Homo sapiens: one gene and its partners. The protein of the gene in region 2 interacts with the protein of the main gene of each other region in a biochemical or structural test. Each region holds a gene or a part of one and is shown on either strand. Other genes may lie near its edges. The genes, in order: GLI3, SKI, HIPK2 and SPI1.

Region 1 (8,449 bases), on a different chromosome or scaffold from region 2:
TTGCTGCCAGGTGGATAAGAGATGGTCATGAAGGTAGTGGAGAGGCCTCAGAGGGATAGAAGAGACAGGTGAAACCACCAGGTCACATAAATAAGTTCCTAGGGAAGGAAGGAGAGACCTCAAGAAAACACTGGTTACTGAAGTGTTTGGTTTGAGACAACTGAGAGAAAATTATTTTATTTAGAAAAAGCGGGATACAGAAAATCATCTCTAGGCTGCCTAAATGATGAGTAAAATCCACCATGCTCACCTCATGCCCGCTGTGAGCGAGTTTCCAGAAGAGCAGGCAAGGATCTGAGTATAGGGTATGGGTCAATGTCACACAGCATCCACAGGGGCTCTGAAATTTGCAGAAATCCAAAGAGAGGGTTTTAGATCTTCCCAACTTGTGGGATTGGCGGAGGTCCAAGCCAATTATAGCTACATCTCCAAGGTGAAGAGGGACACAGCAGACATCTGGGTTACATTTATAATCCCAATGTTCCAGGAAGATGGAAGAACAAGTTACGCGGGTGCTGAGTGAGAGACCCCAAGAAGGGCCCCGTGTGCGATGCACTTAAAAGTATTCTCCTTCCTGGCAGCTGGCCAGTCAGCGTGGGGAGGCTCAGGCCCAACCACTCTTCACCAGAGTGTTTCCTTTCCCAAGGCACTCCTGAGAGATTCATGTGGCCAGGGATCTACCTTTGTTCCCTAGTACTTTCCTTACATGCAGGCTGGCTGGCAAAGTGTGTGCAGAACACGCAAAATCACCAGGACCCAGGAAAGCAGAGTGGGCAGGAGGAAACCTAGAGAGGTGAGCCTGGCCAAGGGGAATATCGGATCCACTTGGGAAAGGTCATTATTTTCTGGGAATGCAAACTCTCAGATTGATTATGAAAATGCAGCTGCCTCTGGCCACCTTCCTCGGTTGCCTAAAGAAACTTTGTATGAAGTGTGAATAAAGTGGAGCCGAAAGATGAAAACAGAACCCAGTAGACGTTATTGGAGCCCCTAGATCCTGTTTTGCCTAAAGCATGCCTACATGTTTCTGGACTTTTTTGTCAATAAAAACAGCCACCCAATCCCTCTGAAGTTTAACTTAAGTCAATTGGAGGTGGAATTTTGTCCCATGCAACTTGAAGTTTATTAGTACACATGGACTATCCTCCTGGAATTTTCCAATAATTAACTGGGTGCTACTGTGCAGGGAGATGGAAGAACTGCCATGGTAAGTGAGGGGAGAAAAGTATTTGTATAACATCGGCCCATGGTAGGAATCAGAGGAGCACGTGAAGTTTGTTTCCAGGTTCATCCTTTGTTCTCTCTCTTGCGTATCCTTCATTCCTCTCCCACTATCTTTTGCAGTGTTGTTAGGAGTTGAATTATGTCCCCCAGAAGAAAATGTTGAAGTTCTAACCCTAGGAACCTCAGAATATGATCTTGGAAACAGGCTTGTTGCAGATGTAATTAGTTAAGATGAGGTCATTCTGGAGTAGGGTGGGTCTCTAACAGAATATAACTCGTGCTTTTATAAGAAGAGAAGCCAGAGACAAAGGGAGAATGCCATATGAGGACAGAGGTGGAGACTGAAAGGGAGAAGCTGCAAGCCACGGGACACCCAGATTGACAGCCACCACCAGAAGCCAGTAAGAGGCAAGGGAGAAATTTCTTTTCCAGGTTTCAGAGGGAGTGTGGCCCTGCAAGACACCTTACTTTTGGACTTCAAGCCTCTAGAAACTATAGGACAATACATGTCTGTCCTTTAAGCCATCCAGTTTTTGGTACTTTGTTACCATGGCCCTAGAAAACAAATGCAAGTATCTTCAAGTATCTCCTACTTCACTGTTGCAACAACAAGAAAGAAAGTCTGTCTTAAAAGCTTAACTATTCTGAGGACTTACTATATTAAAATTTCTTAAGATATCTGCATTTGAAAAGAGAACTGATGAGAGATGGCAATAAGTCAATCTATGATAGAATTTCAGACATCAAGGAAGGGCAGTGCACAGAATCCTGTAAGTCTCTTAGTGCTGTGTATCACTACAAACAAAGGTTGTAGCATTGTCTTTCTGGGTGTCTTTGGGTTTTTACAGATGTCTCAGGAGCAACTGCAGGAAAGGGAAAGAGAGAAAGGCTTAGGGGGATTGGGCTCCGAGACCTCACTCCAATTTCAACCATAATAACTCTTCTATATTTTGGGATTCTACGTAAGATTTAATTTGGAAAGCGTTCTGGTGTTAACACAGAGAGAAAGTCACTGCATTATGACATTATTTAACCCACACTCAGGCAAAGTGGGTTTTTTACCCCTCCACTGTTTCTGCAAAATGTGCCTACTTATATGTATGGGTTTACCATTAAAGCAGAGTTGGACACATAAGAGACACAGCATTATTCTTCCTCTTTTTTGTTTAGCTATTGTGACGGGCATAGGGGGAAAGATTAGCTGCTTTTGCTTTGTTCTTGTCTTTTAAGAACTGAAAAATCAAGATCTTCATGATTCAAAATGTGCTATAAGACTGAAGTAAGAGTCGAAATATCTAGTTTATTCTATTATTTGATGATTTATTGGCTGTCTTTCTTTGTATTTATTTTTTGCCATTGGGTGAACAGAGTAGGCTATCAGGATGTACTATTTGTATTCATGTGATTGAGGCAGAAGCAGTACATGAATACTAAAAACAATTGTAACTGATGCTGGGAGTATATAAAGGAAAGAGTGGCTTGCAATTCTCTTCAATTGTAAAAGCATAATTCTTACACACTTGTAGCCCTCTATACTTTTCCATGTATTTCTCATTGGAAACCCTCAGCCATCCTGGGAGGTACGCGACCTGGCACTCCTAACACTATCCCCTAGATGGGCTCAGAGCCTATGGAGGCTCAGAGAATCCTCCCAGGCCTGAGGCCAGTTAGTGAGCGCGGAGATGGGGCTGCCACAGGGCTTCTGAGTCTCGTGCTCTCTGCGATGAGTCAGTGGTGTTTTGTTTTTTCCTGAGCCGTGAGGTCGAGGGAAATCTTAAAACAAATGGCTAACTAGGGCCTTTAGCCCCACCTTACCTCCACCACTTCCACCATAAAACCTTAAGTCTGTCTCTGCACTTGTCATGTCATTGTGACAAGGAAGGAGTCCCAAGAAACAAACAATGAATACCACCCTCAATTTCGTTAAAAGATTCTTCAGTTAAGCATTTGAATCTCAAAATGCTCTTCAAATTCTAATAGCTCATCATTCATCCACCCACACTCTTCCTTCAGTCAAGACACTTGGCGGCAACGCCACACAAGCAACCCGGAGCTCCGGGGCACTTCTGGCTGGGTGGACCCGGCTTAACCAGAAAGAGGGGATGTTGGAATGTCACAGGGGCTTTCTTTTCTTTCTTTTTCTTCCTGTGTTTCCCCCCGAGAACTCCTTTTTTAAGTTACATGTCCAGGTTGGATATATTAAAATGACGCAGATGAACAAGGACTGGATGGTCGAGGAAGGAGGCCAAATAACTTTTACTAGCATGGGCCTCTGAAAATGAAGCAGGGACAGAGACACTTTGTAGCTCAAGGAAAAGCGGCACGTTAGAGACCAGGCTCCAAGCCTGGGGTCTTTGTTTTTGTGTCTTTTATAAAGTGGCCCATAGGGACAGCAGGCTGTGTGGTGGGAGCTCCTCCTCGCTTCGCGGATTTGGCCCCGAGGGCAGACGAGTCCGGTGGAGAGAAAAACCCTGAACTTCCAAAGGCATCATCCCGCGAGAGGGAGTTTCGGGGATGGCTTTGGGAAAATGTAAAACAAGGAGATGGGGAGCCAAGGATGGGGGGCGGTGGTAATCAGAGAAGCCTTAAAAGAATAAAGGGGAGTCCAGCCCTTGAGCAAGAGTGAGAAAGAGAGGCTGGGTGGGAGAAGATGGGAGCAGACAGGACGCAGCACGAGTGCCAGGGCGCGCATTTGGGGGGTGTCCTGGCGGTGTGGAGAGAGAAGAGAGAGGGCGCGGGTGACATCACGCCCGGGCCCCCTTCCCCTCGCCGGGTGGGTGGGGCTTCGGCGCGCCGGGAGGGCGCGGGGTCAAGTAGGGGGAAGAGGAGGAGCAGGCATGAATGTGTCTGTGTGAAGACCGGGGAGGGGCGGAGGAGGAGGAGGAGGAGGAGAAGGAGGAGGAGGAGGAGGAGGCGGCGGCGGCGGCGGCGGCGGCGGCGGAGGGCGGGGAGGGAGCGCGCGCGTGGCTCGCGGCGCCCGGGCTCCCCCCCAGCCCCCGACCCCGGCCCGCGACGCGCCGCCTCCCAGCCGCCGCCGCCCGCCTCGCAGCTGGGACCCACTCCGGGCTTGGGGACCCGGCGGGCGGGAGAAGCGGGGGCTCCCGGCGCGGCCTGGAAGGAGCGAGAAAGCAAAAGTAAGGCGAGCAGCACTCCAAGTTTTCCCAACTTCGCCCCCTGCGGCGGCAGGCGTCCTGCTGCTCAGCGCGTCCCCTCCGAGCCCGAGAGTGGCTGAAAGAAAAGGGACTGGGCGGGGGCCGGGGCGGAGGAAGAGAGAGTGCGAGGGAGCGAGGAGAGTCCGGCAACATCTGTTAAAACTTGGGGGAGGAGGAGCGCGGGGAGGAGGAGGAAGAGGAGGAGAGAAGGGAAGGAGGGAGCGCGCGGGAGGGGAGCGCGGAGCCGAGGGACAACTTTTCCACCCCGTGAGTAGTGCAGGCGGTGCCAGGTCGGGGCGGGGGGCTTCTCCACCCAGCACGGGGCACCAGGCCGGGATGGGACCTTTTTCCAGAAAGTCGATTGGATGCCAGGAGAGGCGTACGGCTGGGGGTTTCTTTCTTTCTCTTTCCCCTCCCTCCCGCGGTTGAACCAAATCAGAACTGTCACTCAGGGCTTGTGAGTCAGAAGGGATCGGATTACACGATCCCCGAAACTGATGCCGGAGCTGCACGAGCGGGAGGGAGCGGGCAGGGGCAGCGCCACCGGCGCGCTCGCACACTCGCACTCGCGCACACCCGCCGCTCCCACTCACCCGCGCCGCTCTCCCGCCTTCCCCGCGCGCCCCGCGGCCGCCCGCGCCGCACCATGCCCGCGGCGGGCGCACCCCGCGCCCAGCCCGGCCGCTCGCGGTAGCCGTAGCCGCCCGCGGCCGCGCGGAGCGGGGAGCCGCCAGCCTGCGCCCCGTCCGCGGGTCTATGGGAAGTTCGGGGACTTGACAGCCGCTGCCGCCGCAGGTACGTCCCGCTCGAAGTTCTTTGTTTCGCGGACCCCGCAGCCCGCTCCTGCGGCCGCGCCCGCGCCTCCGGGGCCAGAGGTGGTCCCCAGCGTGGGGACGGGATGGAGTGAAAATGGCTGTCAAAAGGCGCCCAGATTTAGAGAGCCGCCGGTGAGGCGTCCGAGCAAGGCTTGCATTCGCTCCCTCCTCCTGGAAGGTCCTTTCCGAAGAGTCCGACCCGCGGACCGGCCGGAGACGGATTGGAGAATTTCACCTCCCGGAGGGGGGACGAAGTTTGCCGCAGTGGTGGCGGCGCCCCTCGCCTCCGCCCCCATCCAAAGGGTTCAGAAGAACTCCGCGAGCCCCGCACGCGCCTGGCTCCTTCCTTTGCGCGGTGGCGCTCTACGGCTCGGGCTTCGGGCGCGCACGGCGCTCGGGATGGGCGGAAGGAGGCGGGAGGCATGGTGGGTGCGCGCGGGGACCTCCGCCGCGGGGGCCGCCGCCGCTGGGGCTTCTCCAGCCCGGGCTATGCTTCGGAGGGCGGGGGTGTGGTGTGAGCGGATGGAGAGAGGCGCGCCTTCGTCGTCATAGAGGAAAAGTGAAAGTTGTACCATCTGTATATGATTTGGGATTCTCTTATTTCTTTTCCTTTCCAGGGGCAGCGCGCACAGACACACAAAGTAACCGTGGTCCATGCAATAATCATTTAAGGTGCCGCGTTTACACAGAGCAGCAGGGGACAGTTACTTTCTTGAGTAGCAGCGGGAAAACGGGCGGGAGAAGGCAGAGAGGGTGTAAATATTGATCCCAAACTTGCAGAGTTTGTGAAGCGACTTTTAAGCAGATTGTCCGAAGCGGACGCTCCACCCCGCACCCGGCCTTTTATCCTTTCCTGAACTTTGTGCTCCTGTCCCCCATTGCACCTCCTTCTGTAAGATGCCGTCCCCCGAGAGGCGCTGCACCCCAGGCTTCCCTGCCTGACCCCGCGTGGAAAGAGGATTAAGGAGGCTCCCTCCGCCGCTGGTCATCCTGCCCCAACTTCTCATCTCCCCAGTGCAGACTGCCGGGTAGATTCTGGCCTTGGGTACAGTGCTCATGGCCCTCTGCCAGTTTATATGTACATATATTTATGTAAAACATTTTCTCCCAGCTCTTTGCCAGCTGTTCCACATTTTCCAGCTGCCACTTCAGTTTGAAATGATGGACTGTCTGCGTCTCCAAGTCAAAGAACCCTTTAGTCAAAGGTATGGAGGGCCGGCCGCTGTGCAAATACATGGCAGTGCCATTAGCCGGGCTGGTATTATTAGTTCTAAAAAATACCTCCTGCTCCCCTTTTCCTCTCCTCCCTCTTCTCTCCAGTTAGGCTTTCCAGAGCACAGTATATACACTTTGCTGAAAATTCGAGTAATTAGGCCTTTCCCTCTTAAATGTGATTTTTGTACAGAATTTGGATGAGGCCGTTTTTTTAGATCCCTGAAATATGTGTCTGGTGGAAATAAATTAACTTTTAAAAATAAAAGAGTTTCAGCTTGAGCGCATTGGGCATGGCGGGTGGGGGGCCTGCACCCTGGCCGTCTGAAATGAGCTCTTTTCAGTCTATTTAAGGCAGGAACCATTCATCCTCCCCATGCTACACTTTTTGTGTTGTTTGATGTCTTAGCATATTATAGACCGAAATCTACAAGAATTGACCTAAAGTATTAATTTTGAGTATTTATGTAATTGCTCGGTAATTTTGAATAGGTGCCTTATTGATTGATTCCTGTAATTATTTCATTTAGGTTTTAGATTAAAAATTAATAGTAGTCTGACAGTTTCTTAATTACATGTGTCAAGATTCTTTTGAAGGAGGAAAATGCTATGTTTTAAAATAGTGAAATAGCCTCAAAATCTCTTAATTTTTCTAAAGCAGAACAGTATTTCAGTTGAGGGGATATATTAAAGCTGCCGGGACTGGTTTTAACAATGTAAACTCTGTGAAGTATCTGAAGAATTTGTTTATGTTAGGAAATATTGGTCTTAACGACCTGGTACACAAACACTTTGGCCAGTTAAACTATATTCAAACCTAAAACAAACATGAAATAACATTTAAATTAGTTGTAATAGCATGCTTATACAGAGTAGAGAGTTTATTTTATACTAAAAGCTATTTAATTAGAAACTCCCCGCCTAAGGGGAGATCCTTTCAGGGTATGCAATTCTTAAAGTCAGCCTAGGGAAGCTTTGGTTTAAGATGCATGAATGAGTCCAATGTGAGAGGTGTCTAGTGAAATTTCACACAAGCAGAAACACTTTAAAGATATAGATTGTATTATTGTTAGTAGGCTGGTAGGTCCAACTCAGATGCCTACCAATTCCCAGTGCCTTTAACATGCTTGTGTTCCTTGACTGAACCTTGATATAAACACATTTCTATTGTATATCTAATTTGCAAAGGACCATAGACAGAAATGAGAAAATTCAATACTGATGAAAAATGGCTCTGTAGAGTTATTTCATTAATTATTTAATGAAAGAATTGTTAATTTATCAATTCGATGTGCAAGCCTAAAAGTTGGACTTTCCTTTGTTTCTTGGCCAGTGAAGTTTCCTTAATTACCTGCATGCTGTAAGCATTTCAGACTTCCTCTGTGCTTAGCCATTTAGAGGTCCTTCCTCCTATGTAAGGTATCCTGCTTACTGAGACCTCTTCTCCCCCTCCATTTTTTGAGGATAGAGTTTGGGAGCTTATGAAAAGAAACAATTTAATGATCATTGTTGCATGCACTCACTTACATGGAGACAGTAATGTACTAAGAAAAACCAGTCTTGAAGGAAAAGTGAATCAATGAGTCATGAAATCCTCAAGAAAACCTTAGCAATGGAATGTTAATGCTTTTAGACTATAGTAGATTATCTTAAAAGTCAGACTTTTCTTCTTTATGCAATTGTTGTAAATCCCCAGCTAAAGAATTCTTTGAAGGAGGTTTTAGTTTTGCTGGCATTCATATTCTGAGGTCGGTCTGATTTGTTTTGGAAGATTCAGTAAATTTTCTGCCAACTTATATCATGAGAGGCAATTAAAATGCTGAAATGACTTTATAGGACACACACACACATACACACACGTTTGTTAAACAAAAGGTTCCACTCTAATAATGACTTCAGGTTGTCTTTTCATTAAAGCCTAGGAGAAGATACTGCCCTTCTCTTCACGTTGTCATTTTTCTAGATGAAAATTGATCTGTTTCTGGTTTCAAAGCAAATAAAGGGAGACAGAATAAACAACAACAGGGCAGGGGGTACTGCTGCAAA
Region 2 (8,116 bases):
ATTGCACACACAGAATGCTGCATTGGCTCAGCTATTCTTGGGAGGCCTAATTAATTCAGCTATTGCATCAAACTTTTTTTTTCTAAATCTGTGAATAGATGCTCCAGCCCGGTTTTCTCTGGGCGCCCCTCCAGCAGAGTGTCAGATCGTGGGGAGGAGGGGCTGTGGATGGAAGCGAGGGACTGTCGCCTCTGCTCGGAGGGGGCTGCGGAGGGTGCATGTGTGTGTGCATGTGTGTGTTTGTGTGTGCGCGCTTCTGACCCTGCCAGGCCAGGGCTCAGGTGGCAGCCGCCTGCAGACCTGTGGGCTGGGGAAGGATGCTCGTGGCAGAGCTGCAGACAGACGTAGCAGGCTGGGGCCCTTCGTGTCACACGGGGAGTTGGTTGGGGTGGGCCCGATGGCGCTCCCTGTGGGCTGGGGCCTTTCTTTTTGGGGTGGCCGCACCCTCGTCAGTGCCTGTGGCTGGAGGAAGCCACATGTCGGGGGGGATTGTGGGCTCGTGCAGGCTGCGTAGTGGGTCACCTGTGGCCAAGGCCTGAGCTGCTGGGACACGCTCACGTCACTGTCTTCAGAGCTGATGGCAGAGGATCTCGGTTGAGCAGGGTGTGTCTGCGTTTGTTTTTGTCCGACTGTGGGTCATGTGTGTGCTTGTGGTCTTTCTGTCTTCCTGGGCTTTGCTGGGGGCCCATTGGAGTGGCCAGTGGGGCCTCGTTGTCACAGCTGACACAGAGCAGGGCCCAGGCCACCCGGCTTCTCTCTCCCTGTGGTTGTGAGCGCCGGGGTCCTTGGGCCGCCATAGAGACAGGCCAGACAGGCTCTGGTCATCTCAGCGGATGCCTCCGAGCCGCCTTTCCCTTTTGAAGTCCCCAGCACTGCTCTGAAATTTCATTTACCGATTAAAAAGCAATTCCCAGGCCATACTGACGACGTGCACGGTGTGAGTGACTGCGTCCTCTAGGCCTGAGTGGCAGCCACACAGCCTGGCCCTGGCAGTGGTGTCCTCCGCCTGGCTCCCTGAATGTTCACCAGCTCCTGCGGGTTTTCCTCTCCTCATGCTCCTGGGGGTGGGGCACCCATCCTGCCCGTGTTGCCTCCTGCTCTATGTTCTTGACGTGGGATGGCGGCCAGGGACTCTGCCCTCGCTCAGTGCCTGCCCTTTAGGCTCTGTGACTGTGCACTTGGGAGTTCTGGGCTTCAGGGTCCCCTTAAGTCTCCTCAGGACAGCCGTGTGCGTGTCTCTGTGTGCACAGGAGCGACACATGAGAAGGGAGTGTGGTCTCAGGGTGGGCGTGGACCCACAGTGCCCAGACCCTACTTGTCCTAGAAGGAGTGGCCTGGGAGGCCCCGCCTCCGCCCTCACTGGCCGCCGTTGGCTCCTCCCACTCGTGTCTTGACAGCTTATTCTCGGGATATGTTTTGATTTCTTCACTTCCTTTGTAGCTTATTTTAATATTTTTGATCTGCCGAAGATGAGGGCAGAACAAAGAATGTACTGGAACTCTCTTTGCAGGGCTGCTGCTCCCAGCAGGCCTTCGGGCTCTGCGGAGCCGGAGGGGGCTGAATTGCCTTCCGGGTGTTTGTGGCCAGGCCAGGGTCGGGTCTCCTGCCTGAGTGGGCTGGGTCAGCGCCACTCTCCTACCCATGGTGGGAGGTGGGAGAGGGCGGAGATGTTCCCGGGTCCCAAACCAAGTGGGAGGCAGGGCTGCAGCTTTCTCCTTGGAAGCCTCCTGTGACAGCGGCTGTGCCTGAGCCTCTGGCCTGTCGGCAGTGCAGTGGCAGCATGAGGGGCAGACAGTCTTCCTCCAGATGCCCCCTCATGTCACGGGGTTACAGAGGAAGCCTCCGCTTCTGTCCAGTGGCTGTCGGGCCCGGCCAGCTTCCTGCTGCTGTATCTTGGAAGACCATGTGGGCTGCATGGGTGCTTGGCGAGTCTCCTCTTAGGGACCCTGGGGCTGCTATCCTTGACAGGGGACCTTGTCTCACCTCCCCACTCGGTCCCACACTGGCTTTGTGACCTTGGACGAGTTGCTTAACCTCTCTGCCTCAGTGTAAACTGGGGACTACTGTTTATTGATCTTGGACTTTATGTTTTGAGTGGTACAGGTGGGGCACAGATGGGTCATTGTGCTGCTGGGAGCACTTAGCCAAGACTGGAGCCTCTGAGCCTTCCCCACTCCCACCCCTCTTTCTTCTTTCCGGTCGGCTCGCCTCCTTCCTCGGGTTCTCTGATAGCTGTAGGACTCCATTGGACTACATTTTTTTGTCAGTATAGACAGCTGTCAGAGACGGAGACAAAATGTGGCAGTTGGAGCTGCCGCTTGGCCTGCTGCCTGGGACGCGGCCCCTTGTCCCGCAGAACGTCAGCCAAGCGCTTTCCGTGCAGGCTGATAACAGGGTGGTGCCGTGCTTCCCTTGGGCCGTGGCAGGATCCTGCTCCAAGGGGGGGTCCTGCTCCGAGGGGGCCGGGGTTTCTGTTCCAACAGGGCTGGTGGGGGGGGTCCTGTTCCCAGAGGTCCGGGATCCTGTTCTGAGGGGGCCAGGGTCCTGTTCTGGGCCGGGGGTCCTGCTCCGAGGGGGCCGGGCGTCCTGTTCCTAGGGGCGGTGGGCTGCCTGTGTGAGAGCTGTTCTTCACCTGCCACGTGCAGTCTGGGCATTCTGGTGACTGGAGAATTTGGGTTGTGTTACAGTGTTGTTGCTCTGTCCTGCAGATGCCTGAATTCCCAGGGGTCTTGCAGGTCCCCTTGCCCTTGCGCTGTGTGGGCTGGCGTGGGTCTCAGTGGGCTGTGGGTTGAGGGTCGCTTGGTTGGGAAGCTCTGCGCGCTTCCCAGTGGAGGGTCCGCGACGGGGGTTTTCTGATCCCTCATGCTGGCTTTTGACCCGTGTCACTGCAAGGCTGCCCCTGGCCCCAGGCAGCGTTTCTTCAGGCAGGTGCCCAGCCAGGTGGTCGGGCTTGAGACCTTTGAGTCTCGAGGTCTGTTCTGGGGAATGACTGAGCTTGTGGAGGCCAGGAAGGGGTTGCTGGGCTTGGAGAGCCTCTGGGGAGGAGTTGTGTTTTGCTCTTTGCTGTTTTAAGCTGAAATGATCACAGGAAGGGACAGCATCAAGAGTTTCTTTCTGGGACACCCCTCACTCAGCTCAGCGGCCGTGTGTGGGTTTGGGGCTGTGCTCTCCCAGACACCCTCAGGTCCGGGGAGCACTTCGGGGGCTATCTGTCCCTTTGTCCACCAGCTTCCTTTGGAAAAAGTGTTTGCTGCAAGTGTTTTTCTCCAGCTTTTCGTGGGGTTCCCTGTAGTCTTGGGCCATGCTCTGGGGTCAGGCTCCCGGCAGGCCCTGGTCCCCGTGCAGAAGGCCAGGGTCTGCGGGTTTGGGCTGGTCTGCCCCCCAGGTGAGGGTTCCGGAAAGACGGCCGGCTGCTGAGTCTTCTCAAGCAGGGGAAACAGCAGCTCGAGAGTGGTTCTTGACCTCTGCCCACCCCAGCTGGCTGTGCACGGACTGGGGAGGGCATGGGCAGCTGCCCCCAGGTGGCTTCTGCAGGGAGCAGAGCTTAGTGGTCATTTTCCCGGCATGGTCTGTCATCCGTCTGTCTGGGACCCCTCTGGGAGCTGGGCTGGGTCCCTCGCCTTCTGGGGCAGCAGGGTCACGGTGGGGGGGCTAGTCCTCTCTTTCAGCATCTTGTTTCTCAGCCGTCCCTGCGGCTATTTGTGCAATGTCTGTCTGTCTGAGTCTCCGGGTGAGGGCAGACAGGATATGGTGCGAGGAAGTCTGGGGTAAGTGTGAGCCGAACCCCGCCCTGGAGTCTCTCGGGGTTGTGGGGCCACAGCCCCAGCTTAGGTTAGGCCTTCACTGCTGCTGGCAGGGCCTCCAGAGAGAAGGCGGTGGTTCCGGGGCCTGGGCCCTGACTGTCTGGCAGGAGGTGTCCACGCCGGCGGCCCGGCTCTCTGTGGCAATAATGTGTCTCTTTCTAAGGATTGCGAAAGTTGAGGGAGGATTTCTCCACTGGAAGAATTATGCAAGCTTCAACTGAAATGTTTTTAAAAAGTTTCTTTGTTTTGAGTCAAAATACAGAAGGTGAATTATTTCCCTAATATCTGGGAGAGCTGGAAAAGAAGGCCCCTGTCCTTATTCTTCAGGGCTCTTCCCCTCCTGAGCAGTGGTCACCAGGCCAGGGTGTCATGGAGGGGGGGCTGCCTGGGGACCAGCTCTTTACACCTGGCCTCCAGAGCGGGTGGTAGGGCGGCTCCTTCCTGCCCTGCCCTGGCTGTCACCCTCGTGGTCTGGAGCAGGGTTTTTTTTTGTTGTTATTTTTTTTTTTTTTTGAGACAGGGTCTGTTTCTGTTGCCCAGGCTGGAGTGCAGTGGTGCGATCTTGGCTCACTGCAGCCTCCGTCTCCTGGGTTCAAGCGATTCTCCTGCCCCAGCCTCCTGGTAGCTGGGATTACAGATGTGTGCCACCACACCCAAGTAATTTTTTTGTATTTTTAGTAGAGATGGGGTTTCACCATGTTGGCCAGCCTGGTCTCGAACTCCTGACCTCAAGTTATCTGCCCACCTTGGCCTCCCAGAGTGCTGGGATTACAGGCATAAGCCACTGTGCCTGGCCCCTGGAGTGGGTTCTGCCACGGAAGGCATCCCCGGGGTCTGCGGGCTGGAGGGGTCGCCCCCACTGTGCCACCTGTTCTCTCGAGGCCTGGTTGCCCTCTGCAGACCAGGTGCCATGCCAGGTGACCCTCAGGAAGCTCTGGCTCACCCCGGGGGCTGGGGGGCATGATAAGCGATAGCTCTTAGGTGCTGCTGCTTTGTGAATATGAGAGAGTTCCAGAAGGGCCCCGCTTCCCAGAGCCTGCATGTTGGTTTCACTGTGTGGTACTTGATATTTTTCCAGGCTGCCTTGCTGGGGTGGCCTCGATGGGGGGCCCAGGGAGCCTCCAGCTCTGGGGACATGCTGCCACATGAGCCTGCTTATTTACGAAAATGAAGAACCAGGACTTGAGTGTGAATTTTAAATGAGATTGTGGGGACAATAGTAAAATCCAGACTAGGACCAGATGGACTGAGCACCTGCGTTGGCCATGGCCCGGAGGTGGCGTGGTGGTGCCTGGCGCCTGTGGCCCTCAGCATGTGTCCTGCCGGCCGCCTAGTAGGCCTTCGCTTGAAGTGCTTATTCCTTTGAGTAATGCTCCTGTCTTTTGTTTGGGGGGAAACAGATAAAGGGGGCTTTGAGAGGCGTCTCGGCGTGATCCTGGGAAACGGCCGAGATTCTGTTCGGTGCTTGGTGTTCGTGTCTTCTCTGATTTTACCTTTTTGACTCATAAAGATGGAAGGAGTGCTCTGCCTCGGTGCCTCTGCAGCTGCAGATGCTGAATCGGGGCGTTTAGGCCTGCCTCTTGGGCTGGCACACCTGGCGGCCTTGGTCAGGCCTTCTTGGGCTGCCTCTGCTGGGGTGCTTGTCTCACTGGCCGTGGGGGTTGTTGCCTGTGTGGTTGTGTTGCTGGCTTCAGGGGCTAGGGTTAGGGACGCCTGGTCACGTCTGGGTCCCCAGTTTGGGGGCCAGATTCAATAACTCACTGAATGACTCAGTGGAACTCTGCAGGCACTGGCAGTCAAGGTTTATTGGCAGGTCCATTCTTTGGCTAGAAGGAGAATGCTGTTTCTTTTCTCACTGTTTCACCATTTTTTTTTTTGAGATGGAGTCTTGCTCTGTTGCCCAGGCTGGAGTGCAGTGGCGTGATCTCGGCTCACTGCAACCTCAGCCTCCCGGGTTCAAGCAATTCCCCTGCCTCAGCCTCCTGAGCAGCTGGGACTACAGGTGCGTGCCACCACGCCTGGCTAATTTTTTGTATTTTAGTAGAGACGGGGTTTTACCATGTTGGCCAGGATGGTCTCCATCTCCTGACCTCTTGATCTGCCCACCTCGGCCTCCCAAAGTGTTGGGATTACAGGCATGAGCCATTGCGCCTGGCCATTGTTCCACCTTTGGAAGAAATTGGTTCACCGTCTTCTGACCTGGGGGGCGCTTCTACCCTGGTTCCATATTGAGGGCTGGGAAGTTGCTGGAATATTATTACCCTTGGCTGGTGAGGCTGAGTGCTGATGCTCCTCCCAGCTCTCAGCCCTGCCTGGACCAACTGCGGCTTCTGCTGGAACGTCGGCGGCTGACTTAGAAAGAAACAGCTCCTGTTCTAGGCTTCCTGCAGGTCCCACGGTGCTGCTTGTTTCAGAGAAACGCAGCTCAGGCTGGCGGCCTCAGGTGGGCATGGGTGGCAGGGGATGCCATCACCCAAATCAGGGATCTTTCTCTGTCCTGAGGGTTCCACCCCAGGACCCAGGGCACTAACTGGGTTCTTGTGTGGCCCTTCCCGACCAGACCTGACCCCTGAGCTGCGTGTGTGAGGTGATGGTGACTCCACGACAGCTTGTGTGCCGTTATGGGGGCACCTGAGGACTGGCTGACCTCACCGGGAAGTGCGTCAGGAGTGGGTGAGGGGTGGTGGGAGGGCAGGGAGCGCCCAGCAGGTGTCCAGCGGTGCTGGCGCTGCCTCTGTCTCTCTGTCCACGCCCTGTGTGTATCTGGAGTGGCTTAGGTGCTCCCTGCGGTGCTCCTGGCTGCTGTGGTTCCTGAAGGCTGCGGCTGTGCCGGTGGTTTCCTTTGATGTCAGTCTTCTTCTACAGGGGAAACCATGTTGCCAGGAGAGCCAGGTGTCCGCTAATTACGTTGTGTTGTTCTGCCCAGGAGTGAACCTGTAAGTGATGAGAATAAGAAGCGGCTGTCAGCCTGCAGACCCGCCCTCACCCTGTCCTGGTTGGGGTGCTGCCTGCTGGGAACCCCTGGTCCAGCTGTTGAGAGGAGGCTGACTGGGGGCACAGTTGTTGCAGAGTCTGATGCAGGCTTTCTCTGCCGGGAAAGTAACATGGAAACATTGTTGCTTTTACTATGGAGCAGATGTATCTTTGCCCAGAAACAGAAATGCTCTTGGTTTCTTTTTTTGGAAATAAGGCCCATAGGCTGGGTCCTTCTTGCCCTGTTGAGGGAACGTGTCTGTCCTTAGCGTGGAGGCCAGTCTGGCCGGGTGCTGAGCTCGTCCTGCAGAACACGCGTGAACGCCTCATCCCTGAGGGCCCCGGGAGGCTGGCGCCCTCTGTGGGAGGTCTGAGGTTGGCCCATTTGACCCTATCCAGGACGGGTTACTTAAGGAGTCCAACGGGCCTTGAGAGGCTGATCACCCTCGTGTGGCGGGCGTCTCTCCCCGGTGCCCTCCCGCCTGGTGCTGTCAAGGGCTTCTCTGTGCCAGGCGCTGGGCTGTGGCAGCCCCAGGTCCCCGCCTGGTGTGGCTGCCCACGGTCCAGGCAGCTCCAGGGTGGGCATCCTTGGCTCCCTCCCTCACCAGCTGGCCCTGGGAGGTCTGTCTGAGAGGAGTTAGGCCTCATTGTCCGTGCTCAGAGAACCCGAGCCTTCCTTAGGAAGCAGTTTGTCCCCGTGCCTCCCTTCAGGATCCTGTGGCCTGAGAAGCCTCTGCGTGGCAGTGGATGGCAGCTCCAGCTGCCCGTGGCCCTCTTTTTTTATGGTTTCCCAGATGACTGGGCCAAGCTGGGCCTCTGCATCCTAGGCATGCTGTTCCCTGCGCTTCCCTGGAAGGTCGGCGGCCCTGCGTGGACCTACACGGTACCCAGGACAGGCCTGCCATGGCACCGGTTGGGCCTCTGGGCACAGGGTGCTCTGCCTCCATGGCCCTGACAGGCTCTGATGCCTGAGGATGGGGGCCGGGCACTCCCAGCCTTGAGACTTCCCTCTGCAGAGGTGGCACAAGCCCGGGGCCCCAGAGTGAGGGGACTCTTGCCTGCCTGGTGAGGGTGAGCGTGGGGTCTGGACTCTGACCCCTGGTCCAGGCGGGAGAGGAGCACACTGGACAGGGCAGCCGAGCCACCCTCTGCGGAGCTGTGGACACTGCGTGTGTGGTGCTGAAGGTGTACACGTCCACTGAGGCCACCTGCGCCGCTGCCTGTGTCCTGTGGGCTGGCACTCACCGAGTGAGAGCTGTGTGCAGAACCTCCGCTGTCAGCGGGCCAGGCCACACTGGGGAGGGAGGTATTCCGTGTGCTTGCACTGAAGCCTGCCCCAG
Region 3 (5,045 bases), on a different chromosome or scaffold from region 2:
GATCCTGGTTGGTTTCAATAGGTATTCTGGAATTCTGGCAGAACACCTAAAGATTTTTTTTTTTTTTAGAAGGTTTTAGATACATTATCTTACACAAACTGTGACCTAATGGCAATAATTACCTCAAATGTGGGCATTCATCCTGGTTTTAGCCTTTTTTGAAATCATGTAGCCAGCTTGATCTTGGAATTTAAAGACTATGAATTCTCTGTGGGCTGAAAATAATGATTACTTCATACCCCCGGTCATCGTTGCTTAAGTGAATTCTGAAAATAGCTCATCTTTACAACAAAAATTAAACCAAGGAAGAGATTATTCTTTGTGTGTTGTACTCAAATGCGATGTTCAAATGCACATGTTAAGTATATATGTTTTTAGCTACTGTAAAATGCTGTTAGCCTTCTAAGCTATCAAAACAGTCACATTTTAAATGAGTAAACTAAACAATTGACTGTGGATACTTAAGCATATTTCTGGCTACGTTTTATAGTTAAAGTGTTTTATAGTTTACATTTAGACTGGTACTTTTTAAAGAAAAGTTCTGTTTATAACTGACATCCGCAAACCCCAGTGAATGCCTCTTAGTTGGAGGTTGTGTCTCCCCCAAGGCAAGTGTGTTGTCCCAGACTCTTCTGTAGTCCAGCATGCGCACTTCCCTCTGGATTATTACTTTCCACGTGAACTCAAGAGAACATGAAAGGCAATCCAGATGGAGGGAAAAGGTGTGAGTCCGCAGCCCGGGCCAGATGCGAAGGTCTCATGCGTGTCGTCTAAACACTTGTCTTCAAGGCCTTCTCTCTGACATCTTGGAAGAGTCATTGAGAACAGATAACCTGGTTCATTGATTTTTGTCTTGATTTGAATATTTAACTTATTAATAGATCCACTGATTTCCAGGCACCAGGCAGTAGAAGAGACTGGGATTCAGGTGACCATGAAGGCACAGCTGCTACTTCTGGGCCGGGGGTGATATTTTGATCAGCGTTTTGTAGGGGAGGACCATATACCCCTATTCCCATGGTCGCTGGCTGGGTTTTCCATATATCTGCTGTCATTTATTCGTTTTCCCCTTAAAAGCAAAATCAATGTAAAAGGCTATGTTTACGTTTTACTCATTGTCCAGCTTAGACTCAAAGTCTAGTTCGGTGGGAGGGGGACCTTAGCATCCTCTCAGAGATGGTCAGGGCTGAGCAGGAGGAGGCAGAGACAGAGGGGCAGCTCAGCCTGGTCCATTGAGACCCACTCTAAACAGACATCATATTTGGAACAAGAAGATGCTTCGAGACAGGAATGGGCCCCACTGTCATGCAGAAACAGACTGGGGGAATGGCAGTTTCCCTGAGTCTTGGTTTCTTTTATGTTTTCTCTTGTGCCACCACCAAACTGCAGAGGACCTGCTGTGACCTAAAGGGCATTCCTTTAGCAGATAAGACCTTGAAAACTGCAAAACACCTGGGACCAGGGAGCTTTTAAAAAATACAAAAAAATACCACATTTGCTTTTTCCCTGTGAACTGTATTGACAGCGTGTTCTTAGGACAGTCTTTTGGTGGAAATGTTACTGTAAAATAGTTTTCATCTCACCCCTCCTAATCATACTCCCACTTTCCTGTTTGTGTGGTGGTGTTGCTGTTTTTTCCTTTACATGAATTAACCAAATGAATTTTGTGTCATTGTTTTTGGGGCTTATATTTTTAAAACATAGAAATTGCCTTTTGTTCATTTGAAAAGTAAGTATGTTGTATCTGAAAAAGGGCTCTGCCTCTGCTCTCCCTCGCTTCCTTGTAACCAATCTCCAAACGAATCTCTCCTGGCACCGCCCCCTTCCTTATATAGGGTCACTGTCCCCGGGGCCACCTCTGCCTCCACCCTGCTGTCACCACTGCCCTGGGCCAAGGCACCCAGGACTCCCAGAAAGCGCGAGAGCCAGCAAGAAGGCCCCACTCAGCCTTGAGACTGGTGGTCACACCTCCCTGTCAGAGTCGCCTGCTGGGCTGAAGGGGCAATGGATTGTCATTGTTGAAATTGTTTGGCTCAGGTTATAAGGAGGAACTTGGGAAGTAGAAAGTGACTTGACCATGTGCATCCTTGGTAGCTTCCTGTAACTAACAAATGGAACAGAGAGCACACCCCCGCCCCGCCCCACCCCAAGCAGATGTTCCCGTCAGCGCTGCCCTGAGTCAGTCGGTCCCCCGTTTCTGCTCTCCTCCCTTTTGTGTTCCTGCTCACTTCAAGCTTCTTCCATGGACTTTCCAGGGCACAGTCATCTCTAGCCCCCAAATCATCTCTTCATCCTCTGTGTGTGCATTTTTTTAACCAAATGAAATAGACAAGAAAGTCATACTTTGGGGCAGCAGAATTTCTAATTTAGTAGAATCACTGTATAGAGATAGATGTTGATATATATGTTTGTGTATATATATCAAACCAAATTGGATAGGAGAAGTATAGCTTTACAGATGAGGAGAAGGAGCTCTTTAGAGGTCGGAGTCAAGACTGGTGTCTTGGACGTGCATGGGCTGTGTCCCAGGCCACTCCGCACACATGGGGCTGAGGCGTGGCGCCGGGCCCTTGTCATCCACCTCACCACGGCAGAGCCAGCAGGCCCTGTAGGGTGCTGCTGCTGTCTCACTGGGTCCCAGCTTCAAGCGCATCAGTGGGTGACGGGGGCAACAAATCAGAGTGACTGGAAGTTTCCATCCCGTTTTGCTTTGACCACGTGTACTGAGCTGCAGCCTCTGATACTCTGTCACGTTTCCAAAAATGGTATCCATTAGGATAGAAAGAGAATGGATCTGCAGAAATGTTTACCTTTCAACTGCTCATGAATTCAGGACACTGGATAGAAAGACTCACTCCCCAAAATGAGAACAGGGAAGAGGAGACCCGGCGACACTAAGTCACCAGGTCCAAGGAACGTGGCTCCCTCCCCAGGGTCATCTCACCTAGATCTTTCTCTCCCAGGTCATCTCAGCTCAATCTCAATAACCCTATGAAAGCCCTGGTCTGTTGTGTTCCTTCACCGTACGGTTTCTGTAATAAAAAGTGTTAATCCATGTTAATCTGTGTGAAAATTATTGCGTGCAACAGTATTTTCTCGTGTACCTCTTTTTCCTATGTGAATTGTCCCTCTTTTTTATTTATAAATGTCTACTTTTGTTTTTTTAAAGACAAACCAATGTGTTGTAGACCTATATGTAACCTATTCCTTAGTCTCATATTATAGGTATGTTATAAGAATGGATATTTTACTTGGCTTTAGAATGTTTTACAAGAAAACTAATTCTTAACTGATCAAGTCCTTGCTACTAAAATGCTTGTGTTTTTCATCATGACGTCGTGTGCTTCTAAATTAATCATTTTCGTTGTAGAAAAATGGAGTGAATTTATATTAGTCTTGGAAACTAATAATAGCATTGTAAATTTATGAGATGATTTTAACAGAAAAAATATAGAAGAATATAGTTATTTTAATTGTAATATTACTAACTGTAGGGTGAGAAAAAGGGGGGGGGGTCCCATTGTGGTGAACTATGTTATAGCTTGTTACTCATAGTTTCTTTTTGATCATTTTTTCGGTCTCCGAGGTGAAATGACTTATTAATTAAAATTTGTAAACTCACATATGCATATTGTATATGTGTAGAAATGTAATCACACTTTGTCTTGGAATTACATTAAACTGTTTGAAATCACTGTACACCTGCCTGGCATGCTTATTTATCCTGGAACCAGACCTGTCATAAAAGCGAAGAGGTTATTGTTACAAGTAACATATTTGGGGTTTGTTTGTTTATTTAGATGGAGTTTTGCTCTTGTTGCCCAGGCTGGAGGGCAATGGCACGATCCTGGCTCACTGCAAACTCCGCCTCCCAGGTTCAAGTGATTCTCTTGCCTCAGCCTCCCGAGTAGCTGGGATTACAGGCATGCACCACCACGCCCGGCTAATTTTGTATTTTTAGTAGAGATGGGGTTTCTCCATTTTTTGGTCAGGCTGGTCTCGAACTCCTGACCTCAGATGATCCACCTGCCTCGGCCTCCCAAAGTGCTGGGATTACAGGCATGAGCCACTGCGCCGGGCCGAGATTATTTAATGGCTCTGGAAATGTGTAGAAGCCACCACTGCATTGAACATTTGCAGAGAGAGGTGGGGGGCCTTGAGATCACATTACTACCAATTCCCATGCAGTTGAGTGGGGCTAAGAGTCTCCCAGCTTCCTGCTGCCTCTTCCAAGCCATTTCAGCCCCATCTGCTCCCAATCTCTGTCCCTGACACCTAAGGTGTGGCTGTCACCTGCTGTCCTGGAAGCTTTCCAATATGCATCCCGGATCCTCCGCACCCAGGCCCTGCCGTCTCACCAGACACCATCAGCACCCGGAGCCTCGTGGCTTGCTGGCCCATTGCCAGGGCCCTTGCCACTGCGCACTTGAGCTACGTGCGCCACAGCCCCGTCCAGGCGCTGTGCCTGCAGCAGCTCCACCTCAGCAAGCCTAAGAAACGCCACATCCTGCTGGGACTGGGGTTTCCCAGCCTTCTGACACTCTTTTTGTCTTAAATTATGGTAAAATATACATAATATAAAATTACCATTTTAAGTGGACTACTAGCAACGTTAAATACGTTCACATTATTGTATAGGTGTCACCACCATTTCCAGAATTTTTTCATCATCCCAAACACAAGTTCTGTCCCCATTAACAACTCCCCATTTCTCCCTCCACCCGGTGCCTAGCAACCACCCTTCTACTCTGTCTCCATGAATCTGCCTATCCTAGATATTTCATGTAAGTAGAATCATATATTTGTCCTTTTGTGTCTGGTCTATCTCACTTAGCATAATGTCTTTAGGGTTCATTCATGTTATGGCATACATCAGAATTCCATTCCTTTTCATGGCTGAATAATATTCCATTGTATGGAGAGATCACATTTGGCTGATCCATTTATCTGTTGATGGACATTTGAGTTGCTTCCACCTTTTGGCTGTTGTGCAAATGCTGCTGTGAACATTGGTGTGCAAAAGATCTGTTCAAATCCCTGCTTTC
Region 4 (8,116 bases), on a different chromosome or scaffold from region 2:
GTCTCTACTAAAAATACAAAAATTACCCGGGCATAGTGGTGGACACCTGTAATCCCAGCTACTCGGGATTCTGAGACAGAAGAATCACTTGAACCTGGGAGGCGGAGGTTGCAGTCAGCTGAGATCGTACCACTCCACTCCAGCCTGGGTGACAGGGTGAGACTCCGTCTCAAAAAAATAAAAATAGAATTAGCATATGATCTAGCAATCCTACTTCTGGGTATATATCCAAAAAAATTGAAAACAGGGTCTTTCCACACCCTTCTTCATAGCAGCGTTCTTCACAATAGCCAAACGGCAGAAACACCCTAAGTGTCGGACGGCTGGATACGCAAAACGTGGCACATGCGCAAAACGTGGCGCGCGCATACAATGGAATATGATTCAACCTTAAAGATGAAGGAAATGCTGACACGTGCTACACCATGGGTAAATGGGTAAGCCTTGAGAACATTATGCTAAATGAAGGCATAAAAGAACAAATACTGTGTGAATCCACTCATGCGGGGTACCTAGAATAGGCAAATTCATAGAGACAGAAAGTGGAATGGTAGCTGCCAGAGGCTGGGGGGAGGGAAAATGAGCTGTTGTTCAGTGAATACAGAGTCTCCGTTTTGCAAGATGAAAATAATTATAGAGATGGATGGTGATGATAACGTGAATATATTTAATATCACAGAACTATACACTTAAAATGTAAAGAAATGGTTAAGATGGTTTAAAAAATGGTTAATATTATGTGTATTTTACCACAATTAAAAAGAGTAATAGGCTGGGCATGGTGGCTTATTCCTGTAATCCCAGCTATTTGGGAGGCTGAGCCGGGTGGATCACCTGAGGTCAGGACTTCAAGACCAGCCTGGCCAACATGGTGAAACCCTGTCTCTACTAAAAATACACACAAAGAAATTAGCCAGGTGTGGTGGCGCATGCCTGTAATCCCAGCTACTCGGGAGGCTGAGGCAGGAGAATCACTTGATCCCAGGAGGCAGAGGTTGCAGTGAGCCGAGATCACGCCACTGCACTCCAGCCTGGGTGACAGAGTGAGACTGTCTCAAAAAAGCAAACAAACAAACAAAAAGCATAATAAACAATAGCAAATCCTGTAAGCCCTTCAAAGTCTATCTTGAATCTGTCCCCCCCTTTCTGTCTCTGTTGCCACCACCCTTGTCCAGGTCACCACCATCTCTTTCCTGGATTATTGCAATAGTTTCCTCAATGTTCTTTTTTCCAGCTCCTATTCTTGCCTCTTTTCCATCTGCTCTCCACCCAGAGTGACCTTTTAAAAAGCTTACTCAGTTGAATCATGAGACATTGGGAAAAGATACTAAAAACTTCCAGAGAAAGAAAACAAAAGAGAGAGAGAGAAAAAAAAAAAACAACAAATGAAACAAACAAAAAGCTAGGTTAATTATAAAAGAAATTTAAAGGAACATGGAGTGGTATCAGACTTCATAGGAAAAACTCTAGTAACCAGAAGACAGTAGAAAAATGCTTTCCAATTTCTAAGGGAAAAAATGATTTTCAACTTAGATTTCCATACACAGCCAAACTATGATTAATTAAGTGACAGCATAGAATAAAAGACATGAGGCAAAACACAAAATAAAACCATCACCACCACAACAAAAACCTCACCTCCCACACACCCTTTCTTAGGAGACGACCATGATAACAAATCTGTACAAAACATTTGCTATTTCCAGGCACTGTTCTAAGCATTTGACATACAGTAGCTCGTTCAGTCCTTACAGCCATCCTGTGAAGTTGGTATTGTCATGAAGAAGTTGAGGCACAGAGAGGTTGGAGATCTTGCCCATGGTCACCCGGATAGCAATGGAGGAGATGGGGGATGAGTTTCAGCAGCCTGGTTTCAGAAGAGTTCTTATCTCCTTGCTACATTTCCCCTCAGAAATATGGGGATGAGGCCCGGGGACAGTGGCTCACGCCTGTAATCCCAGCACTTTGGGAGGCTGAGGCCAGTGGATCGCCTGAGGTCAGGAGTTTGAGACCAGCCTGGCCAACATGGTGAAACCCCACCTCTACTAAAAATATAAAAATTAACTGGGCATGGTGGCACACACCTGTAATCCCAGCTACCCAGGAGGCTGAAGCAGGAGAATTGCTGGAACCCGGGAAGTGGAGGCTGCAGTGAGCTGAGATTGCACACTGCACTGCAGCCTGGGCAACACAGAGAGACACCGTCTCAAAAAAAAGAAAAAAAAAAAGGCCAGGCATGGTGGCTCACGCCTGTAATTCCAGCACTTTGGGAGTCCGAGGCGGGCAGATCACTAGGTCAGGAGTTCAAGACTAGCCTGGCCAACATGGCGAAACCCCATCTCTACTAAAAATACAAAAATTAGCTGGGCGTGGTGGCGGGCACCTGTAATCCCAGCTACTCAGGAGGCTGAGGCAGGAGAATTGCTTGAACCCAGGAGGCTGAGGCTGCAGTGAGCAGAGATTGCGCCACTGTGCTCCAGCCTAGGCGACAGAGTGAGACTGTCTCATAAAAAAATAATAATAATTAAAAGAAATATGGATATGAGAAAGTACAGGTAAAGAAAGGATGCCATGTGGCTCAGCTGTGAGTAATAGCCACATGGTCATAACAGTGGAAAATTCAAATACTGATTTAACAAATGTTACCATATAGAGTAATGAATTGGGGATGTGTGGAGAAATGTGAGTGTGTGTGTGTGTGTGTTGTGAATGACTAAAGTTGAATTCTGATTGTACAAGTAAATAAAATATATCTCTAACTGAAAAATCAAGCTGCCTGACACATCAAAGGCACTCAATAAATATTTGCCAATAAATAATGCTCTAAGTCTCTATTCCACATCTTCATTTGTACATTTACATAGCACTGGAATAGAAAGACTGGAGGCCGGGCACGGTGGCTCACGCCTGTAATCCCAGCACTTTGGGAGGCCAAGGCGGGTGGATCACAACGTCAGGAGATCAAGACCATCCTGGCTAACACGGTGAAACCCTGCCTCTACTAAAAATACAAAAAACTAGCTGGGCATGGTGGCACTCGCTTGTAGTTCCAGCTACTCGGGAGGCTGAGGCAGGAGAATCGCTTGAACCCGGGAGGTGGAGGTTGCAGTGAGCTGACATCACACCACTGCAATCCAGCCTGGGCGACAGAGCGAGAGTCCATCTCAAAAAAAAAAAAAAAAAAAAAAAAAGGCAAGGCGTGATGGCTCATGCCTATAATCCCAGCACTTTGGGAAGCCAAGGTAGGAGGATCACCTGAGGTCAGGAGTTTGAGACCAGCCTGGCCAACATGGTGAAACCCCATCTCTACTAAAAAATACAACATTAGCTGGGCATGGTGGTGCACACCTGTAATCCCAGCTACTTAGGAGGCTGAGGTAGGAGAATCGCTTGAACCTGGGAGCCAGAGGTTGCAGTGAGCCAAGATCACACCACTGCACTCCAGCCTGGGCAACAAGAGTGAAACTCCGTCTTAAAAAAAAAAAAAAAGATTGTAAATGTATTTAAATTTTCAGCACACACACATACACAGAAGGTTATTCAGATCATGGTCATGTCATTTCCCTGCTCAGAACTCCCCAGTGGCTTCCCATGGTGTGTATGATAAAATCCAAATGCCTGCCATGGCCTTCGCCCTGCGTGAGCAGCTGACCCCTTTGGCTTCCCTTTCTGTCCCCTGCCCTGTGCTCACTGGCCTCTCTGGTCCTCTGTCAGGGTCCTTTCTGCTTTTGCATTTTCTGTTCCCTTTACCTTGAATACCTCTCCCCTACCTATGGTCACATGTGAATTACGAGTTCCTTCTCTTAGCTCAGCTGCCACCTCAAAGGCCTTCCCTGACCACTCAAATGAAAGCAGCCCCCCATGTAGACACTCCGCATTACATCTGCAGAAAATGGTCTCTTTGTCTGATTCTTTTTTTTTTTTTTTTGCTGGAGTCTCGCTTTGTCTGTCACCAGGTTGGAGTTCAGTGGCGCGATCTCAGCTCACTGCAACCTCCGCCTCCGGAGTTCAAGCGATTCTCCTGCCTCAGCCTCCCAAGTAGCTAGGAGTACAAGTGGGCACCACCACCTGTATTTCTAGTAGAGATGGGGTTTCACCATGTTGGCCAGGATAGCCTCTATCTCTTGACCTCGTGATCCACCCACCTCAGCCACCCAAAATGCTGAAATTACAGGCATGAGCCACCACGCCCCAGCCTATTTAATTCCTTATGTCCCCATCCCCTCGCTGGAGAGTGAGCTCTGTGAGAGCAGTGGCCTTGTCTGGTGCTCATCATGGACTCCCCAGAGCCTACAAGAGTGTCTGATACTCAGAAACTATTTAATGGATGGAATAGGGAGGAAAAGTGGATCAGATGGGAAGCGGCTGGCAGGATGGACGAGTAGGTGGGTGGATGGGAGGGTGAGTGCATGGATGTGGGGGTGGGTGGCAGATTGACTGTCCCCTGGGTCAGTGGAAAATAACCCAGTTGGTCTCTCACAGAGCCCTCTGTGCTTTTCCCACTCCCCAGCCGCTTTGTCCCTCCTGCCTTGAGGAATGCAGTGAAGCTAGCACGGGCCTCGTCCTCTGCACGTTACCTTACCTCAGAGATTATATGCCTTACCTCGCTGAATCATCACAGCCCTAGGAGGTAAGTATTTTCATGCTGTCAGTTTTATAAATGGGGAAATAGGGACTCAGAAAGGTTATGTTACTTGCCCCAAGTTTTCACAGCTGGTAAGTGATGGAGCCAGGGCTGGGCCAAAGCTTTTTCACTAAGCTTCAGTACCTAAAAATGTGGACAAAGAGGACGTGCAGGAATTGACAGAAGTGTGTGGGGGTCTCTATGGTTGAGTCTTCAGACGATACCTTCCAGCGGGTATAAAAAGGGACAGCCCGGCCGGGCGCAGTGGCTCACGCCTGTAATCCCAGCACTTTGGGAGGCTGAGGCAGGCGGATCACCAGGTCAGGAGTTCGAGACCAGCCTGGCCAACATAGTGAAACCCTGTCTCTACTAAAAATACAAAAAATTAGCTGAGCGTGGTGGCAGGCGCCTGTAATCCTAGCTACTTGGGAGGCTGAGGCAGGAGAATCGCTTGAATCCGGGAGGCGGAGGTTGCAGTGAGCCAAGATTGTGCCACTGCACACCAGCCCGGGCGACAGTACGAGACTCCGTATCAAAAAAAAGGGACAGACTGGGCGCGGTGGTTCACACCTGTAATCCCAGCACTTTGGGAGGCCGAGGCAAGTGGATCACTTGAGGTCAGGAGTTTGAGAGCAGCCTGGCCAACATGGTAAAACCTCATCTCTACTAAAAATACAAAAATTAGCCAGGCATGGTAGTGCACGATTGTAATCCTAGCTACTTGGGATGTTGAGGCAAGAGAATCGCTTGGACCCAGGAGGCGGAGGTTGCAGTGAGCCAAGATTGGGCCACTGCGCTCTAGCCTGGGCAACAGAGCAAGACTGTCCTAAAAAAAAAAAAAAAAGAAAAGGACAGCCCAAATGCCCTGATTGGCAGTGATTAAGAGTGGGACAGAGCCAAGGCCGAGGACACCTGGGAACACTGGTGGAGTCTCTGGAGGAACTAGGGGTTCATGACCAACATGGGGTGCCCAGGCATCCAATCAGGAGTCATTCCTAGAGTCCCACCTGAGATATAAGGAACCTGCTTGGACCCTGAGCCACGAAAACACATGCTTTCTCTAAAGTGCTCACTCCATCAGGCCCAGCCCCAGGCTCACTGGTTTCCAGCTATGTGGGCAGCGCCCTCATATTACAGGAAGGAAAACTGAGGCTGCAAAAGGCCCAAAGGAAACGCACCCAAGCCCAGTGAACTGAAGAGGGATTGGGCCAGGGAGAATGCGTCCTTGTTGGAGGAGGCCTGACAGCACTGTCTGTGGTGACCCGAGCCACCAGGGGGCGCCTGTCCCAGGGCCCAGCGGGACCTCCTGGAGTCCTGGAACCGCTTGGGAAGGTGGGTGCGTGGTCTCTGGGTCCCCCAGACCGGGCTCTTCACTCTGGTAGGGAGAGCTGGGGATGGAGTTGGGGGAGGGGGACTTTCTCTCTACATTGCCTGGGTTTCCCACCAAGAGGATGTGTTTTTTACATAATTACAAATAAGCTTGAAGGAATTAAAAAGGATATTTTAAAGGCTTTCTAGCCCTGAAAGATTCTAAAAGATGCCTGTGCGTTCCCAGCTGTGGCCTGGAGGCATATCCGCCTACCCCTGGGATATGGCTTCCAGTCTGAGTTCCGGATGAATCTGGGGCCCTAAATGTGGACCAGGCACATGTGGATCCCTAGCTGGGCCCATCAGGTTTAGACCGCCACAGGTGCATCTGCAGAATGGAGCTACAGGCATGACTGGCCGCAGGGGTGGCCTTCAGGAGTGACACCTTCCTAGGCTGTGGGCCTCTGCCCTCTGAGGTGCAGACACCCCAGTCGCTGGTCTGCCCGGGTCCCAGACGCCCTGAGGAATTCCCCAGTGACGACTCACCCACTGACTAGGCCACCTCGCTTTGGGTCAGGGATGTCTACATCAATAAGCCAAGATCCACTTTGGGCAACCTCCCGCAGCCCCCTGCTCAGGTCCCAGGCACCTAATGCCTCTCTCCCATCCCCTGAATTTGCTCCAGGACGGAGGCTGGGCTATGGGGCAGACAGTCAGACCCAGAAGGACTGGACAGACAGAAGGACACCCTGGCCCAGGCCTCTTCCTCCCACTTCAGCAAACTGGGGGCCTCGGCCTCTGCTGAACAAGAGGTTCTCATAGGTTTTCCTTCGGCCCAGCAGTTCCCAATTAGGGGTGATTTTGCCTCCCGGGGGGATCTGCCAATGGGTGGAGACATTTTTGGTTGTCATGATTGGCCATGGCCCTGGCATGTGGTAGGTAGAAGCAAGGATGCCACTAAGCTTCCTACGGTACCCGGGACAGCCCACCCAGGAATCATCCCACCCAAAATGTCAGCAGTGCCACAGTTAGGAAACCCTGCCAACCACACATGGCAGGAAGTGCGGATGTGCCGGCGGGGAGTTTGGGACAGAGAGTGACGAGAACAGAGAGGAGGAGGTGGGTAGTTAGGCAGGGGCAGAAAAAAAAGCACAGGACCTGGAGCGGACAGACCTGGGTTCCACCCAGCAGCCGTGTGACCTTGTGCAAGTCTCCTAGCACCCTAAGCCTGTTTCCTTGTTTATAAAGAAGACCACAAGGACAGAACCAGCAGATAACCATGGAAGAAATGAACCCCGCACCTTGACACACTGCAGAGGCTCCATAATGGAGGCTCAGGTGTGGGGGTGCAGCGATGATGCTGCAGTTCACTGCCTTTGAGAGCAAACTTGATCTGATTCTCAGAATTCCAAAGAAGTCCTGGGAATCATTTATTCTTTTTCTCTCTCCAGACCCCAGGAGCCCAGGCTGGGCTGGGGGATGGGGGCGTGGCAGGCCCCGTACTCACCGCTATGGCTCTCCCCATCACTGCTGAGATAGGGGTAATACTCGTGCGTTTGGCGTTGGTATAGATCCGTGTCATAGGGCACCAGGTCTTCTGATGGCTGCTGAGAGAGGAGGTGTCAGGGCCTGCACCATGGTGGGAGACCCCAGCCAGGCCTGCAGCACCCCCGCACGCTGGGTCCCCATCACCTTCCCTGGCTCAGTGGCTGCGTTGGACCTACAGCCCTCCCTCTGCCTGGAACTGGGACAGAGAGTGGGGCAGGGGACCCAGAAGGCCTGAAAAGGGGTGACAGGGACCTTGGGGGTGAGAGGTCAGAAGAGGACCAGGGTCCCCCTCTGCTGGGCTACTCCCCATAGCCACCTCACGCTCACACTCACACTCACGCCTGTGTGCCCCCATCCTCATCCCACACACCTCTCCTGGTCACACTGATGCACATGTCCACACGATCCCTGTGTCACCCTCACACTCATAATCCCACACGAGGACTCACTCTCACAGCCCCTACCCACCCCCATGCAGGCGCCTGCACACTATCCCTCACACACACATCTTCATACCCACTCAGAGGTCACCCACCTCACAGAGACATTGTACACTCAGCTCATGCACACACGCAGAGTCTCCTTGATTGACACTCACATGACACCACGTTCCAGCCATCAACACACACACTCACA

The links.
Region 1: the proteins of SKI (region 2) and GLI3 form a complex in vitro, tested with the Homo sapiens proteins (one study listed by BioGRID).
Region 3: the proteins of SKI (region 2) and HIPK2 form a complex in vitro, tested with the Homo sapiens proteins (one study listed by BioGRID).
Region 4: the proteins of SKI (region 2) and SPI1 form a complex in vitro, tested with the Homo sapiens proteins (one study listed by BioGRID).

What each region holds. Positions count from the first base shown.
Region 1 is NC_000007.14:42,233,693-42,242,141, reverse strand, and holds the start of GLI3 (transcriptional activator GLI3), read left to right. Parts: upstream 1-4,932; 5' UTR 4,933-5,171; intron 5,172-6,307; exon of another isoform or gene 6,308-6,396; intron 6,397-6,402; exon of another isoform or gene 6,403-8,449. UniProt on the Homo sapiens protein: Has a dual function as a transcriptional activator and a repressor of the sonic hedgehog (Shh) pathway, and plays a role in limb development.
Region 2 is NC_000001.11:2,230,745-2,238,860, forward strand, and holds part of SKI (ski oncogene), read left to right. Parts: intron 1-699; exon of another isoform or gene 700-8,116. UniProt on the Homo sapiens protein: May play a role in terminal differentiation of skeletal muscle cells but not in the determination of cells to the myogenic lineage. Functions as a repressor of TGF-beta signaling.
Region 3 is NC_000007.14:139,560,224-139,565,268, reverse strand, and holds the end of HIPK2 (homeodomain-interacting protein kinase 2), read left to right. Parts: 3' UTR 1-3,699; downstream 3,700-5,045.
Region 4 is NC_000011.10:47,368,194-47,376,309, forward strand, and holds part of SPI1 (transcription factor PU.1), read right to left. Parts: intron 7,540-8,116; coding exon of another isoform or gene 7,537-7,539; coding exon 7,440-7,536; intron 1-7,439. UniProt on the Homo sapiens protein: Pioneer transcription factor, which controls hematopoietic cell fate by decompacting stem cell heterochromatin and allowing other transcription factors to enter otherwise inaccessible genomic sites.